2 linked regions of the Homo sapiens genome follow. The protein of the gene in region 1 interacts with the protein of each later gene in a pairwise test. Each region holds a gene or a part of one and is shown on either strand. Other genes may lie near its edges. The genes, in order: MORC3 and ZMYM5.

Evidence for each region.
Region 2: the proteins of MORC3 (region 1) and ZMYM5 interact in a two-hybrid assay, tested with the Homo sapiens proteins (one large-scale study listed by BioGRID and IntAct).

The regions. Positions count from the first base shown.
Region 1 is NC_000021.9:36,371,986-36,374,979, forward strand, and holds part of MORC3 (MORC family CW-type zinc finger protein 3), read left to right. Parts: intron 1-388; coding exon 389-546; intron 547-2,994.
Region 2 is NC_000013.11:19,857,150-19,860,649, reverse strand, and holds part of ZMYM5 (zinc finger MYM-type protein 5), read left to right. Parts: intron 1-3,500. UniProt on the Homo sapiens protein: Functions as a transcriptional regulator.

The sequences.
Region 1 (2,994 bases):
TATTTTTTGTAGAGATGGGGTTTCTCCATTTTGGTCAGGCTGGTCTTAAACTCCTGATCTCAGGTGATCTGCCCACCTCAGCCTCCCAAAGTGCTGGGATTATAGGCGTGAGCCACCATGCCCGGCTGGTTTTTCATTTTCTAGGTACCACTTTTTTTTTTAAATCAAGTGGTAATATGTTGTATTCTCTCAGTGTAAAAAGATGTAGAAGTGAAGCTGTAAACGAATGAAGCCTTGTTTATAGAAAACTACTGGTTTTTCTTTGTGTATTTGTTTTTTGATAGTTGATAATGTTATCAAGCAGGTTCTCTATATTAGCTTGAAATTTCACTTTGCCATTAGTATTTTTAAGTTTTACAGTTATAAAGCTCATTTATATTTTTGTTAGGTTGAATTGCTGGAAATGGAAAAGTCACAAATCCGTTCACAGTGTGAAGAACTCAAAACTGAAGTAGAACAGTTAAAATCTACAAATCAACAGACGGCAACAGATGTTTCAACATCAAGTAACATTGAGGAGTCTGTAAATCATATGGATGGAGAAAGGTAATATTAAATGAGGCGTTTTTGTGGGGCTGCAATTATGGTTAGGATACTATTTATTTTTATCTGCTAGCACCCATCAAATAGATACTGTTCTGTCAAAAGAAGTTATTGATGGTCTGCTGTGACCCTGGTGTTATGATAGATAAAAAAGAAGTGACACTTCATTATCCTTCCTTTCCAGTTTCTGACCCTTTAGGTTCTATTTAAGTGGAATAGGAATTTAGAAGGGATAAAGCATTTGATTGGTCAGAGTGGTTTTAGAATGCTTTTTGAAGGAAAATAAAAATGGACAAGATATTGAAGAATAGGGGGAATTTGGCCATGAGTAGAAGACAGGAGACTTTTACTGAAACTCACTCCTTCAACCTGTTTTTCTTTTATTGTCGTACTTGGTACCATGTCTTTATGGCTTGCTGTCCTTATTTCACTGTATGCTCACTCTAATCTTTTAGGAAATTGCAAAATTATTAAAAATTGCCATAGTACAGATGATATTAGGAAGAAGTCCTATTAAAACAAGTAGATAGGCCAGGCGTGGTGGCTCACACCTATAATTCTAGCACTTTGGGAGGCTGAGTTGGGCGGATCACCTGAGGTCAGGAGTTCAAGACCAGCCTGGCCAACATGGTGAAACCCTGTCTCTACTAAAAGTACAAAAATTAGCCGGGCGTGGTGGCAGGCGCCTGTAGTCCCAGCTACTCGGGAGGCTCAGGCAGGAGAATCGCTTGAACCTAGGAGGTGGAGGTTGCAGTGAGCCGAGATTGCGCCACTGCACTCCAGCCTGGGTGACAGAGCAAGACTCTGTCTTAAAACCAAGCGTGGTGCCTCATGCTTGTAATCCCAGCACTTTGGGAGGCCAAGATGGGTGGATCACTTGAGGTCAGGAGTTCGAGACCAGCCTGACCAACATGGTGAAACCCCGTCTCTACTAAAAATACAAAATTAGCTTGGCATGGTGGTGCACACCTGTAACCCCAGCTACTTGGGAGGCTGAGGCAGGAGAATCGCTTGAACCTGGGAGAAGGAGGTTGCAGTGAGCCAAGATCGCGCCATCACGCTGTGGCCTTGGCAACAAGAGCAAAACTCCGTCTCAAAAAAAAAAAAAGCTGGTATGGGAACGATTAAAGTATTATCAAAGGTCTAGTGGACTCTTACCATAAAAGCTCACAAAAAAACATGCTCAAAATCACATTCTCCGCATTATCAGACTAAGGAAGAACATCTTGATCCCTTCATAGATTTCCACTCGAGAAAAATCAGTATCTAAATTAAATATGGACTTATTATATTGTAGTGGGGTAGGGAACAAGAACAACTGTAACACTCATTTTATGTGTTTGCCATAATATTTGAAGCAAAAGCTGCCTTACAGTTTAGGTGTTTATTGCTTAAATACTTTTGGGCATTTTTTAAAAAGTCTAGAATGTTGATATTCATAAACTTGGAAGGCATAATTATCTTAATCTATGGTTTCCCAGTGTTTTCAGCAAACCATTGTTCTCTGTAAATGCACGGTAACTTAAGCATGTAATAGGATCAGAGCAGTCCTACAATTATTATTATTATTATTTTTTTGGAGACAGAGTCTTGATCTGATGCCCAGGCTGGAGTACAGTTGCATAATCTCGGCTCACTGCAACCTCTGCCTCCCAGGTTCAAGCAATTCTCCTGCCTCAGCCTCACCAGTAGCTGGGACTATAGGTGTGCGCCACCACGCCCAGCTACATTTTGTATTTTTAGGGAGAGACGGGGTTTCACCATGTTGATCAGGCTGGTCTTGAACTCCTGACCTCAGGCGATCTGCCCGCCTCAGCCTCCCAAAGTGCTGGGATTACAGGCGTGAACCTCTGTGCCCGGCGTAAAAAAAAAGCTGCTTTAACATTGTTTAACACAATGTTTTGCAAGCTTATTTGACCACAGAACCTTTTATTACCTCTTACACAACTATGGATATCTTATAGAACATGTTTTAGATAATTCTGGCTAAGCATGGTGGTTCATGCCTGTAATCCCAGCACTCTGAGGTGGGCAGAATGCTTGATTGAGCCCAGGAGTTTGAGACCAGCCTGGGCAATATAGTGAAACCCCATTGCTACAAATAATAATAATAAAAATTAACCGGGCATGGTGGTGTGGGCCTGTGCTTCCAGCTACTCAGGAGGCTGAGGTGGGAGAATTGCGTGAACCCTGGAGAGCAGTGGTGCCATCGCAGCTCACTGCAGCCTTGACCTCCTGGGCTCAGGTGATCCCCCACCTCACCCTCTTGAGAAGCTGAGACTACAGGTGTCGTCACCAAGCCCGGCTAATATTTTGTGTTTTTAGTAGAGTCAGGGTTTCACCATGTTGGCCAGGCTGGTCTCGAACTCCTGGGCTCCAGCGATCTCCCTCCTCGGCTTCACAAATGCTGGGAATACAGGCATGGGCAAGTGCACCTGACTCATAAAAGTG
Region 2 (3,500 bases), on another chromosome or scaffold:
CCTGGTCAACATGGTGAAACCCCGTCTCTACTAAAAATACAAAAATGGGCTGGGCATGGTGACTCACACCTGGAATCTCAGTACTTTGGGAGGCCAAGGCAGGCAGATCACCTGAGGTCGAGAGTTCAAGACCAGCCTGACCAACATGGAGAAACCCTGTCACTACAAAAAAAAAAATACACACACACACACACACACACATACACACACACACACACAAAATTAGCCGGGCCTGGTGGCACATGCCTGTAATACCAGCTACTTGAGAGGCAGAGGTTATGGTGAGCCGAGATTGTGCCATTGCACTCCAGTCTGGGCAACAAGAGCAAAACTCTGTCTCAAAAAAAAAAAAAAAAATTAAACGGGTGTGCTGGTGGGTGCCTGTCATTCCAACTACTCAGGAGGCTGAGCCAGGAGAATCACTTGAACCCAGGAGGCGGAGGTTGCAGTGAGCCAAGATCACACCACTGCACTCCAGCCTGGGCGACAGAGTGAGACTCCATCTATAATTCTTTTTTTTTCCTCTTTTTTTTTTTTTTTTTTTTTTTGAGACAGTCTTGCCCTGTCACCCAGGCTGGAGTGCAATGGCGTGATCTAGGCTCACTGCAACCTCTGCCTCCTGGGCTCAAGCGATTCTTGTGCCTCAGCCTCCTGAGTAGCTGAGACTATAGGTACATGCCACCACGTTGGCTAATTGTTGTATTTTTAGTAGAGACAAGGGACTGACCATGTTGGCCAGGCTGGTCTCGAACTCCTGACCTAAGTGATCCGCCCGCCTTGGCCTCCCAAAGTGCTGGGATGATAGGCACCCACTACCACACCCGGCCTGTGTAATTAGTTTTTTAAAAATTTTTATTTAAAATTTTTGTGGGTACATAGTAGGTGTTACATATATTGCATAATTCTTGACTGTTTTATTTATGATTAAGAATTGGGAACTAAAGGCCGGGCACAGTAGCTCACACCTGTAATCCCAGCACTTTGGGAGGCCAAGGTGGGCAGATCATGAGGTCAGGAGATTGAGACCATCCTGGCTAACACGGTGAAACCCCATCTTTACAAAAAATACAAAAAAAAAAATCAGCTGGGCATGGTGGCAGGTGCCTGTAGTCCCAGCTACTCAGGAGGCTGAGGCAGGAGGATGGCGTGAACCTGGGAGGTGGAGCTTGCAGTGAGCCAAGATCGCGCCACTGCACTCCAGCCTGGGTGACAGAGCGAGACTCCGTCTCAAAAACAAACAAACAAACAAACAAACAAAAAACGGGAACTAAAAAGCAAATTGGAAGAGTGAGAGTGGGGTTTCCAACTTGAAGCTTGCGGGTGATCTTCTGGCCAATTGATGGGGAACCCCATAGGTTAATATTTTTAGGACTTTCCTTTTTTGCTGATTCTTAGTTCCGCAGGGAAGAGTCTTGCTCAGAAAGAAAGCCTCCAGAAAAGAGTTTGCTGCCTGGAAAATAGAAGTCTGGATGCCAGCTCTCTGGGAATCAAGTAGGAGAGGGGACATTTTTTTTTTTGAGATGGAGTTTTGCTCTTGTTGCCCAGGCTGGAATGCAGTGGCGTGATCTCGGCTCACTGCAACCTCTGCCTCCTGGGTTCAAGCAATGGAGAGGAGATATTTCATGGTATTGAAACATTCCCCAGTGCTTGGTGAACCCAAGACTTAGATCTTATGTTCTATCTTATCAAAGAAAAAATTTTTAGAATCTGTGCTAGGATGGGGAAAGGCCTGTCACCATCAACTTGATGGGAGGGAAGATATCTCTCAACCTCTTTTCTTAGCATCTGCCCATTCTGTTCCAGGGATATGTGGTGCTACAGATTTCTGAGCCTACAGTGGAAATCAGAATGTTTCTTGGCTTTTTATTCACTGTTTTAGACTCTGGCTATCTCAGGTTGGCAGTTAACCATTCATCCATCTGTTCTTTGGCTTATAAAATCATATTGCTTTTGTTTCTTATTCTTCCTTTCCTTGTGGTAGTCCTGTTTAGGGGAGTTTTGGAAGGGAACGAAGTTAGTTGTATGTGATCAATCGGCCATCTTTTTTTTTTTTTTTTTTTTTTTGAAACAGCGTCTCTCAGTCTGTCACCCAGGCTGGAGTGCAGTGGCCCATCTCGGCTCACTGCAGCCTCTATCTCCCAGGCTCAAACAAGCTGCCTGCCTCAGTTTCCCAAGTAGCTGGGACCACAACCATGTGCCACTATGCCTGGCTAATTTTTGTATTTTTTGTAGAGACAAGGTTTCGCCATGTTGCCTAGGCTGGTCTTGAACTCCTGGACTCAAGCGATCCACCTGCCTAGGCCTCCCAAAGCGCTGGGATTACAGGGGCATTATACTGCACCTGGCCCACTTTACTGTCTTAATCCCTGCTGGGCTAGTGATTTCTAGGCAGAGTTGTTTTTTCTGTTTGTTTTTTGTCTTTGTGGTTTTTTTGTTTTTTTTTTTTAATTTTTAGAGACAGGTCTAACTCTGTTGCCCAGACTTTAGTGCTGTGGTGTGGTCATAGCTCACTGCAGCCCTGAACTCCTGGGCTCAAGTGATTCTCCTGCCTCAGTCTCCCAAGTAGCTGGGGATTACAGGCGTGCACCACCATGCCCAGCTAATTATTTTATTTTATTATATTTATTTTTTATTTTTGAGACAGGGTCTTGCTCTGTTGCCCAGGCTGGAGTGCAGTGGTGTGATCATGGCTCACTGCAACTTTGACCCCCTGGGCTCAAGCCATCCTTCCACCTCAGCCTCCCAAGTAGCAGCGACTACAGGCGTATGCCACCATGTTGGACTTTTTAAATTTTTGTAGAGAGGGGTCTCTCTGCATTGCCCAGGCTGGTCTTGAACTCCTGGGCTCAAGCTATCCTCCCATCTTATTCAGCCTCCCAAAGTGCTCAGATTATAGGCATGAGCCACTGTACCTGGCCTTTATTTTTTTGTAGAGATGAGTTCTCAGTTTGTTGCCCAAGTTGGTCTTGAACTCCTGGCCTCAAGTGATCCTCCTGCCTTGGCCTCCCTAAGTGTTAGGATTATAGGTGTGAGGCACCAGGCCCAATTTAGATAGTAATTTTGTACCTAGTTCCTGCAGTAATTCTCTTGCTATTTGTGGTAGTAGTTCAGTTGACTCTTCTTTTTTCTGATCTCATTACTTTTGTGAGTACCTTCAGAGTCATGGTACACCTTTATATCTGATTTTAAATAGGTGTGCTTATATACTCAACTGTGAAGTGTCTCTGAAAGTAGTCTACAAGAAGAGCTAAATAGGTCAAAGTACATTTATTCATTTCTTTGTTTTATGTTAACCCTTATCTTTACACCTAAATATCCCGTTAAATTTACGTTGTTTCCCATTCTCTAGAGATAGTTTACATGTAAGCATTTTGCTAGTGTTATAATTTGTGTATGAATAAGATACCACAAGAAGACTAGTTAAATGTTTAAAATTAGACAGTTGCTGAAATCCCAGCATGTAGCAATGTAGCATAGTATTTGCCTAAATACCTTTTTAT